2 linked regions of the Homo sapiens genome follow. The protein of the gene in region 2 interacts with the protein of the main gene of each other region in a biochemical or structural test. Each region holds a gene or a part of one and is shown on either strand. Other genes may lie near its edges.

Region 1 (7,036 bases), on a different chromosome or scaffold from region 2:
ATTCTGACCTAAATGCTTTTTTTTTTTTTAAACAAAACCAGGAACCTCAAATCTTGATAGCTCTCAATATAAAAGTGCTACAGAAGATGCTGTCATGGCAGTTCATTTTGGCAATTCCTCACAGCTCAGGAAATGTCTCATTGAAAAGTTATTCTTGCTTCCCTCTCTTCAAAATGATCTAGTAATTACCTAAAGGGATAAAGGGCCAAGGGCAGAACCATCAAATGCTGTTAAGTTTTGTTATGTGTGTCTATGTATATACACAGACACGTTCTCACTTTTACAGACATCCCTCAAAAGGCAAAGCAAGCCAAAACCCACATCTGTTGGAAAAAAAGTTACTGGAAGGTTCATTGGAAATATAATGGTAACAATGTTTCTCTCTGCTGAAGTAAAGCTCACATTCATTTGGGGTACTCAGATCCCACTGCCGAGTCCTACACCAACAAGGTGGATATTTGGAGCAATTATCTAGATAAAGTAAGCCAAAGAAACAATCTAAAATATCCTTAGTTTTGAGGCAAAGCTGCAGGGATTGAAGGTAGGGCTGTGAAGTAGGTATGAAGAGGTTATTTAAATGATCTGAACACTTGGATCAATTTGCATTGACTATGTCTATATGAGCAATCTTTTGAAAACTTGATTACCAAGAAAATATACTCAATTTTTCTTAGGTACCTTTATTTATTTATTTTTGAGACAGTCTCGCTCTGCCGCCCAGGCTTGAGTGCAGTGGTGTGATCTCAGTGCACTGCAACCTCTGCCTCCCAGGTTCAAGTGATTCTCATGCCTCAGCCTCTCAAGTAGTTGGACTACAGGCGTGTACCACCATGCCCAGCTAATTTTTGTATTTTTAGTAGAGATGGGTTTCACCATGTTGGCCAGGCTGATCTCAAACTCCTGGACTCAAGTGAACCACCCATTTTGGCCTCCCAAAGTGCTGGGATTACAGGAGTGGGCCACCATGCCCAGCCTCAATTTTTCTAAGGTACTTTTAAACAAAGGATTTGCTGCCTATCTTCAAGTACTTTTTACCTGATGATTTAACAAACCAAGGTCTGGGGCACTAAAACTATTAGTCAAAACACCACACGAGATTCACCCATGATGTAACATGAATGCCAATGGTCATTTGTATTTTCAGGCTAAGGTTTGGCCTCATATTTATCTCTAAAGTTCCCACTGAGGTTTTCAGATGAGGTTTGCACTGCCATAAGAACTATAAAGTTCTTTTTGGAAAAGGTATTAAGTCATTTGAAAAGTGGAGGCGTTCGTTTTTTAAAAATGATTTAATCAAATTGCAGACAGGTATTTACGACTTAGCTGAAATAGCCTAAGTTAGGTCACAGTGGAATGAAAAATGATGGAGGCAGAACAGGGAATTTTTTAATATCTCCATGTCAGTAGACAGAAGCGTAACTTGAAGCATTTATATCTCTGTAAAGTTTGGCATTTTCCGAAAATGATTTTAAATTTAGTCTTTCCTCTGTATTTCACTGGACATAAAGCTGGAAGTGGAGATATTTCAACAATGGTCACTTTCTAATATAATTCAAATATTTTCTTTGTAATTTTTACCTTTATTATTAGGGAGATTTTATGAGATCAAATAAATGAATCCAAGGTGTCCGGAAGTGATAAGCCAACTGTAATGTAGGTGGAACATGATATGGATATTTTAGATAAGTAGTAAATGATTTTTGTATTATTTGTGTTTGACTTTGCAGTACATTTTTAACTTCACATTTAAATATGTAAGTCTGAAGTTTTGGAGTTCACAGCATTTTTGGCAAATGAACAAAAGGGTGTCTGTAGTGGCCACTTCACATCTATATATAACATATATGCTTACTAATAAATGTCTTCTATAATCTAGAAGACTTGAGTTTATTGACCAGCTCTGTGACCTTGAGCAAGTCATTGTCCTTCTCTGGGCCTCTTTATTTTCTATTTGTAAAATATGAGGTTGGAATAGAGTAGATCCTTTATAAAGTTCTCTTTTAGTTCTTTTTATGTTTATAAATTTACTCTCAAGTTGGCTTATAACTCCTCTGGGGTCAGAGGATATACCTAAGCATTTTCACTTGAAATACCTTTTATGATACTTGATCAAGAGAGTAAGGAAGTGAACAAAATCTTTTTCCTTTCCTACTTTGTACTGAATTAGAGTTAATAAAAATGTTGGTGTCACCAACATGGAAGTTAGGGCAATAGCTGTTCAGCTTTAACCCCCATCCTAAATGAGGCTTCACTATAGCTAGTAAAGTCTTAAGCCCAAGTCACAACGATAACCCTGAGAAGATCTGAAAAGGAATGTACTCCCGTGACATATGACACTGGTTCTTTCAATAGTAGAGATTGATTTACACATATTATCTCTTTAGAACGTAAGTGACAGAAGACTTTTGGAATACAGTTCCATGTCTGGCTAGCCTGTTTTCTGACAAGTTGATAAGGTCACTGCTAGAAAACTTATAAGTTTTCAGAAGTGATATACATTTCTGAGAAAAACATGTTTTTCTTTTTATAAAATGGGGTTATATGCTATTTCTTTTGGTGCTGTTAATATGAGTTAGGAATGTAGCCCAGGTTCTATTATTATTCAAAGTGAATTTGACAATTTGAAAAGCTGAATCTGTAACTTTAGAAACCTTTCTGGAAAGTAACCTGTGATTAAATGTCAAGGCCATTTTATGACAGTCTTAGCGAAGCAGGGGAGAAATTGATTTGAGTAAATAACCACTTCAGATATGATCAAGGAATTATTTTCGGACAACCTCTTGCCAAATGGGTCTTGATGCAGCTTTTTCACTTGATCACTTTTTCCTGGATATGAGGCTTTATTCTTCAAAACCTCCTCCTATTTCTGGCCCCTCCCCCTCCATTTTGCTCTTCTCCAGGCTAGAGACAAAGATGGGAATCCATTCAAATAACAGAAACCACACTTATCAAAAGCTAGTTTGGAGGCATATTTGCAGTTCGAAAGTTCCTCATTTCTCTTACTTTTATCAGAAATTACATACATTAATCTAAATGGATTCCTATTGGTGTTGACATTAAAAAAAACAGCGTGACACCTATTTTACTTTTCTGGGCTACACACTATTTATGTAATCTCTAGGACTCAGACCTAGAGTTGTTTCAGGTCATATGTTAGAGTCTAAACTGAGGAAACCTTTGTGCTAATGTTGGTAAAAGCCGTCCTTGCTCAGCAGGTTCTCAGTGGTTATCAGGTCTAGAATGATGACCATATGCATTATGGACTTTATTTTTTAACTTGAACCACTGTATTCTGATGAGGTACTCTTAAGCTGTGGAAAAGAATTTGTTTGGATGTATAAATGTAGCTTTCTTGGAAGACAGTAGAATTTGGATCACGTTTATAATTCCATGAATCCACTAGGGTTGTTATGATATATATCTAACATAATTTACACATGCAATTCCACTGCCCCCAATGAATATTAAAACTGCAACCTGAATTAGGTTATCTATACCTAAAGTTGCCATTTTTATAAAGCAGTTAATTAAAATGAAGATGCTCTTTTCTCATATTTTGACACTTCAGCAATATGCCATTTTTCTGATAAAAATATTTCAAATTCAGGCTTTTATCTTAGAAATTATTTGATAGCAATGATAATTAAAACTATCAACAGTAGAATAGGACCCAACAAATATGACAACTATTTATCTTGCCAATGTATGAGATGTAGTGACTATTGGTTAGAGTGTAGTAGATGTTTTTAAAAAATAGCACAAATTCTAAATACTAATTTTGATACTATCAAATTTTCAAATGTAGTAAGTTAACTGAAACACACAAACAGAAAAATAATTCGCCTAACTTATTAGATATGACATATACTATGGGGTAAATATTTCATTGGCACACATTAGGAAACTAACACATCTTTAAGAAACAAGAAAACTCAATAGCCCCCACAATAAGAAGTTGTAGTATTTAAGAACGAAACAAGCCACTTATACCCAGAAACCACAAGCTGACAATTCTTTGAAATCTCTTCAGCCTCCCTTTGATGCTGTTCATTGACCCAGCATGGGCAGCGCGTAGCACTGAATGGCAACAAAGATGGGCAGGGTAGTTTGCCTTATCTGATAGCTGGTGGGGACTGCTGACCACATCCCTCAGCTCTGCGGGAAAATGGCATGAGATTCTGAGGATGGTCAGGAATCTGTGCGGCAACAAGACCAGCAAAGTGGCACCTGGGGCTTCAAGGAAGCATGGGTGAGAAAAGCAAAGCAAAAAGGTTAAGCACCCAACTGCACCTCTGATGATTAGGTGCAACACCCCTTCAGTCGGTTGTAAGATGGACTTAGTGTGTATAGGTATTAAAAAGGCAAATAATAATGAAAGTAATAATAAAACAAGAACAAAAATGGAGAATGTGGCTATAAAAGATGGTGCAAATAAGAGTTTCACTCTCCTTTCTGGGGGGCAGGGGCAGTGAGGGAATCATATTCTGTGTCACCTCTGAGAGCAAGGAAATTACAGATTTCTGTTGAGTTCCAGAACAGATGATTAGGGCTTGACTTAGAGGCGAGTTGTAACTTGTTCTTCCTGTCCATCACCCCATTTGTGCATGAGCAAGTCACAAGCCTCTCCCCAAGTTTCAAATACATCCTCTGAGGAGTCTAAAAGTTTAGAATTTGAGGAGCAGATGCTGGATGCACAGTGAAGAGAGCTGGAACAGGCTAGAGGGCATTCACTGCTCTGAGCAGCGCCCTGGACTTCACCTAATTCTACCTCACTGAGGTTAATTTCACTTTGAGAACAGGCCTCTGCTTTCCCTTTCTCCATCTGAGAATATCTGATGTCCTGCCACATACAGTGCTGCTGAACAATTCCATCAGAAATTGTGTACATTGGCTCTGAACTGGGTTCAGACATATGACCATTAAATTTGGAGAATAGGAGACCCAGTTTCTTGAGAGAAGGACCCATGAAGGAGCGTTTGCTTGATGACTCAGCTTTTGACTTTCCTTGGGCACCACTGGACCTTGGCATGGTTCTGATGAGAGGTGGCCCATGGCAAGTCTTTTTCTTGCAGCCTAAATTAAAAGAGACACTCTTGGATTTGGCCCGAGCCCCACCACTGCCATCATTATTATCGTCTCTCTGAGACAGTTCAGTGCTGCTAGTGGAAAAGCTCCTTGGATGTTTTCTATTTCCCAAGAGGTCAAGCACTTCATACCGAAAGCTGGAGATGTCTTGCTTTAATTCCTGGGAAAAGAGAGGAGACATATTATGTCAAGAAGCTTGGTCTTTATTTCAAAGTAGGCACATTAGATACCTTTGGTATGTTCCAGGTTTTTGCCTAGTAGCAAATCACAAAACACCAGAAAAATCTGCCATTATTCAAACACAAGAAAAACATATTAATAATTCCATGGGCAGGGCTGGGCTGGCCATTGGCAAAATTGTACAATGGGTAAAGTTGATTCAGGATTAGCTAACACTTTAGCAGGGATTAGTCTGTTGAGGTGCTTTCATAAGGACTAACTCCTGCTAAGTATTAACTAACAAGTTATTAGATTAGGACACTGGCTCTCAGGTGTCTGCATATAAAAGGACTACTGAAGAGGAAAAAGCTTTTAAGACTCTAACGAGTGAAACTAGAAAAGTTGAATGTCAGGTGATGAGACTGCTGTTTTGAGACAGGGGGCCCTGTTCAAACCTCTATGAAATGTCTTCTATCTCCAACTGGCTGCTTACATACTAGATTGTTCCTTTAAAAGCCAAGCTGAAATCTGTTCATGTACTTCCCCTTCTCAAAACTTGTTACTAACTTGTCACTGACTTTAGGAAAAAGTAGAAATGCCATACCATGGACTACAAGGTTTTTCAAGGCCTAGTACATGTTGCTTTCTCCAGTTTCATCTTTCTACTCTTTTCCTAGGCTCTCTGCTGTCCACCTGTATGGACATATTCTCCCTTGCCTCTGGGCCTTTGCCTATGCTGTTCTCTCTGTCTAGAACATTCTTCTCCCCAACTCGCCCTTATCTGGCTGGCTTTGCTTTCAAGCCTCAGCTTAAGCATCACTTCCATTGGAAAGTCTGTCTTGACTCCCCAAGTCCCAGATGAGCGTCCCTCCTCTCTGTGTTTCCACAGTGTCCTGTGTTTAACCTGTCAGAATATAAAATTGTTCATCACCCTTTATTATTGTTTGTCACTCCTTGAGAGTAGGAGCTGGTTAGATCTTGCTCACCACTGTACCAGAGCACTTAGCAGAGTGCTTGGAACATAGCAGACCCTCAGTAGATGAATTATGTCTATGAATTAGGATAATGGACTTTCTGTGTGCCTTAGAAAATATAGATGTGTTCATGGACACTGGGAGGGGAACATCACACACAGGGGCCTGTCAGGTGGTGGGGGTTAGGGGAGGGATAGCATTAGGAGAAATACCTAATGTAGATGATGGGTTGATGGGTGCAGCAAACCACCACGGCACATGTATACCTATGTAACAAACTTGCATGTTCTGCACATGTATCCCAGAACTTAAAGTATAATAAAAAAATTAAAAAATATATATATAGATGTGTTCTAGGATAGGATTTCTCAATCTTGGCACTATTGACATGTTGGACTGGATAATTCTTGTTGTGGGAGACTGTACTATTCATTGTAGGATGCTTAGTAGCAACCTTGTCTTTACTGTCTAGATACCAGTGTGACAACCAAAAATATCTCCAGACATTGCCAAATGTGGTCTTGGGGACAAAATTGCCCCTGGTTGAAAACGGTTGTTTTAGGCTAATGCCACTAGTATAATTTTAATGTTTAATGGTAGAGTTTCTTAAGACCTTAGATTTAATAACAGATTTTTTGATCTTATATCTTTTAAGTAAAGAAGATAATTAAGTCTGCAGGCATCTTCCCTTTGTTATCTTGTCCCTCACCACCATGCATCCTTGCCACATCATTTAAAGCATTCAATTTCCACACTGAGAAACACTCAGAATATTAAAAGAATGCATACAGCAGATTTCCTTCATTCCTGACACTGAT
Region 2 (4,249 bases):
ACCGGCTGCCCAGGGGTGAATGGGGTGAGTGGGGTGAGTCCACAGAACAGTGGGGTGCAGCCCCAGGGGTCTCGTAGCACCTGCCCCCATGTCAGGAAGTCCCACAGCCTAGAGGCTCCAGCCTCAGATGCATACATATGTAGGCCCTGCCCTTTCCTCCTGAGCGGCGGGCCACAGAGTCCTGAACAACAGGAAGCCCCTGAGGAGGGCTCCGCCCTGAGGGAGGGCAGGGGAGCCCCCGCCAGCCCCACCCACAGCAGCGGGCCCTGCCACCCCCCACCCTGACACCTCACCCCTTGGATTCCAGAGAGGAAAGTGGGCTTGTGTGTAGTTTACATGCTCATATCTTAAAATCACTGTTGTCAATAGAACAATTCATAATCATGATGATAAAATAAGATTTATAACCAGCTTCAGTCTGGAGATACACACAGAGCAGATCTTCACTCCCAGACAGGGAGCCCGCAGCTGCCCCCGACCCCACAGGTGCAGGACACACACAGACAGTTCAACCATGTCTTAAACACACAGGTGTTTATTTAATTGTTCATTTGATTGAATTTTTAAGTTCACTTTACTACGTGGATGAGATGGGTGCATATTACAGTAGGCTTTCGCTATGAGCGCTGCCACCATGAGGAATATCCCAGCCCTCAGTTCTGCTTCCCTTTCTGAGTCCCACAAAAGCCAGATGTGGACAGCCTTGGGTTCCCATCCCAGCTGGCTGCTCCTTCTGGGGCTGTCTTGGTGGGGAGAGGGAGATGGGGCAGTGGGTCCCTGCTGACCCCTGAGCCCTGCAGGGGTCAGGATCCTCCCGTGGTCCCTGGGTGTGACTCTGGAAGACACTGGCAGTGCCCGGCCAAGGCCTCCCGCAGGATGGAAGTTGAGGGCCCTGGCTCTGGGTCCTAAGAGAACTCAGCCGCCCCCTTCACACTTTACAGCAAGGGGCCAGGCAGCAGCTTTGGGATGGGGCTTCCGTGGAGAAGTGGGGGATGCTGCAGTGGTACAAAGACAGCCTCCCCCACCGCCATCCTCCAGCTGACCGTCCTCCAAGGCCAGCACTGGGCGTCCAAGGGAAAGAAGGAACTCAGCCCAGAGGGTGTGGGCAGGAGAGGCCTGGAGTCAGGCCTCCACCCACAGCCCCCTCTGGGTGCCAAGTGGGAAGGGTGTTGGGGCTGGCTTGGGAACCTTACCCGCTGCCCTTCCAACACCTGGATCTGTGGGCAGCGGTCCCACAAAATCCCCCTTGGGGCTCCCTGAGGAGGACTTGTGGCTGCCGCTTCCACCAGGGCAGAGGGCACAGGAGGGGCCAGCACTCCAAAGGGCTCTAGGGTGGGTCTTTCAAGGACATCTGCAAAGCCCTGGTGGGGAGGGGCCTGGGCCAGAGGCTCTTTGGAACTCTTGCACTTCTGAGTGGGGGACTGTCCATGCTGCCCACAACCTCTAGACCATGCAGCCTGCTCATGGGTCCCTGGCAGAGAATGCCCACTCCCCAGCAGACTCAGGGCAGGCCCCCAACTGCAGGCTTCCAGGAAGGCCCAGGGTGTCCACCTCACGCCAGGTGGTCTCAGAGGACCCCTGTGCAACCACATTAAGGAAAGCTGCAGCCCCCACCCACCCGCCTGCCAGTTCAACAAGCACCGGCTGCACACGCAGGCTCCCAGGCACCATCACCCCCCTCCCCCGTCGCCCCTCCCTCATGGGGAGCCCCTTCCCCCTGGAAAGACAGCAGGTACTGTAGCCTCGCCTGCTGGCCAGGGGCGCCGGCTCAGAGGACCTGCCCTGACCTGCACGTGCTGACCAGACAGCCCAGCGTAAGGACCCGTGATCCCACGCCACCGCCCTGGGTTTACCACGGTCACCGCCACCTCTCTCACAGGGCCCCCGGGGGACCCAGCCGCGCCCGGCCTGGTGTCTGCACCGAGGGACCGCGTCTCACGCCCGGCGGCTCCTGCAGGGGAAGCCGTGGTCAGCGACTCACCACGAGGACAGGGCAGGGCGGCTGAGTGCGGAAGAGAAGCATGAAGCTGGGGGCGGGGGTGGGGGAGGAGGAACAAAAGTTGCATCTAGACAGAGGTGAACGAAACAAAACCAAAACCCGAACGTGTTCTGTCGCAGGATGGGCGCCGCCCGTCCCGGGCCCTTAGCCCGACATCTCTTCTCGCTGCTCCTTGTTCCTGCGCACCTCGGCCGCGTGCAGCTCCTGCAGGACAGGGGGCGGGAGGGCCTGAGGGCGGGGGTGGCTTGGGGCGACTCCGGGAACCCCCAGGCGCGCAGGCCGTGGCGCCCTGGCACCCGCCCGGCCTCATCCGGGCTGGCCTTCGGCAGGACCCTGACTGAGTTGAGGGGGCGGGAGCACCGGGGAGGCGCAGAGCAAGGCCAGGGACCAAGGACGGGTTTCCTGGGAGCTGGCTGGGCCCCGCTTCTAGCTCGTACCGGAGCCGAGCTTCCTTCAGGGCACTTTCAATATAATGAATTTAGCCATCTATTACTGCGGCTAGTTACTGTCCCGCCAGGACCAGACTCTGGACCTGCCTCGTGCGCTGCTGGGGACGCCCAGTAAACACGGGAGGAGCCCCCGACCCCCACCCCAGCTCAGCGCCTCGGAGTCCCCGGCCCCGCTCTGCGCCCCTCCGAGCTCCGCCCTAGCCCCGCCCCCGCCCAGTGCCCCGCCCCCTGCCTGCTGCTAGCCCTGCCCCCGCCCCGGCCCCTGCCCGCTCCGAGCTCCGCCCCGGCCCCGCCCCGGCCCCTGCCCGCTCCGAGCTCCGCCCTGGCCCCGCCCCCGCCCAGTGCCCCGCCCCCTGACTGCTGCTAGCCCTGCCCCCGCCCCGGCCCCTGCCCGCTCCGAGCTTCGCCCCGGCCCCGCCCCGGCCCCTGCCCGCTCCGAGCTCCGCCCCGGCCCCGCCCCCGCACCTTCTCGCGCAGCCGCTCGCGCAGTGCGGCCAGGTGTGCCTCGCGGATCTCCTTGCTGAGCTCCATCTTGTAGTTGAGCTTCTCCTCCGCCTGGCGGCTGAAGTTGTTATTCTCCTCCAGCGCCTTGTGCAGCACCTCGCGCTCGTGCTCGCGCCGCTCCGCCAGCTGCTTCAGCACCTGCGCCTCCTGCGTCTGTGCGGGGCCGGCGGGCGCGCGTGAGCGGCAACCCCGGGCCCTGCCCGGCCGGACTCCTCCCTGCTCTCCGCCTCCCGCCCAGCGCCCGCTCGCCTCACCTGGCGCCTCCACCTGCCCAGGCCTCGGTGGGCGCCGGGACCCCCGGGCGCTGCCCTGGGAACCCTCGCCTGCCATCCGGCCTGTGGTCGGGGCAGGGCCAGGGGGTCGCGATCCGCCGCCCCCGCCCCCGTCCCTGCCTCGCGCGCGGGTCCCGCGGTCCTGGCTGCGCCCAGGGCCCCCGCCATACCCTGCCGCCACTGCACACCCTGCCCTGCGCGTCTGCCCCTCCAAGGACCAGCAGCAAGAAACCCTAAACTTGTGGGCGGTCTCTGAGCTTTGTCTCTTCCTCGGACATCCGCCCACTGAGCAGAGTAGCTGCTTGTTACACACCGGGTTCCCAGCTCCCAATTAGGTGCCCAGGAGCGGAGGGTCCCCAGGGATGCTGGGGGAGGGGCCGGCTGGTGACCCCTGGGAGGAGAGCGGGGCAGCAGGACCCGCACCCACATGCCAGTCCCTACTAGTCAGCCCTGTGAACCCTGGTCTCTGGCCTCACCGGGAAGGGAACGGAGCCGCTTCCCCTGCCCAATGCGTTGGCCTCCAGGGTGGCACCCCCAAAAGGACATTTTTATCTCTGTTTCAGTCTCAGAGGGGCTGGTGGGAGGGGAGGCTGCAGGGAGGGGACCTGGAGCCCACACCCACCTCTCCCAGGGCCCCTCCGCCCTCCAGCAAGCCTCAGGGTCTTCACACATGAGGCCCTTCCTCCAGCTTCCCTGTCTGGGAGAGGGATGCCCCACCCGACGTCCCCAGGGCCCATCTGGGGACCACCCCCTAGCATCCTGCTGGCCCTGACAAGGGTGCCTCCCACCCTCACCAGAGGCTCCTGCTCCTTCCAGGTGGCCGCCTCGGAACCCTTCCTCCTCTCCATCCCTTTCTTTTTTTGTTCTTGTTTGTTTTTTGAAATGGAGTCTCACCCTGTCGCCCGGGCTGAGGAGTGCAGTGGCGCAGTCTCGGCTCACTGCATCCTCCACTTCTTGGGTTCAAGCAATTCCCCTGCCTCAGACTCCCTAGTAGGTGGGATTACAGGTGTGCACCACCACACCTG

What was found.
Region 1: the proteins of STMN3 (region 2) and TRPC5 form a complex in vitro, tested with the Homo sapiens proteins (one study listed by BioGRID).

The regions. Positions count from the first base shown.
Region 1 is NC_000023.11:111,771,758-111,778,793, forward strand, and holds part of TRPC5 (short transient receptor potential channel 5), read right to left. Parts: exon of another isoform or gene 6,898-7,036; intron 5,246-6,897; coding exon 4,556-5,245; 3' UTR 1-4,555. UniProt on the Homo sapiens protein: Forms a receptor-activated non-selective calcium permeant cation channel. Mediates calcium-dependent phosphatidylserine externalization and apoptosis in neurons via its association with PLSCR1.
Region 2 is NC_000020.11:63,639,195-63,643,443, forward strand, and holds the end of STMN3 (stathmin-3), read right to left. Parts: intron 3,106-4,249; coding exon 2,914-3,105; intron 2,204-2,913; coding exon 2,144-2,203; 3' UTR 518-2,143; downstream 1-517. UniProt on the Homo sapiens protein: Exhibits microtubule-destabilizing activity, which is antagonized by STAT3.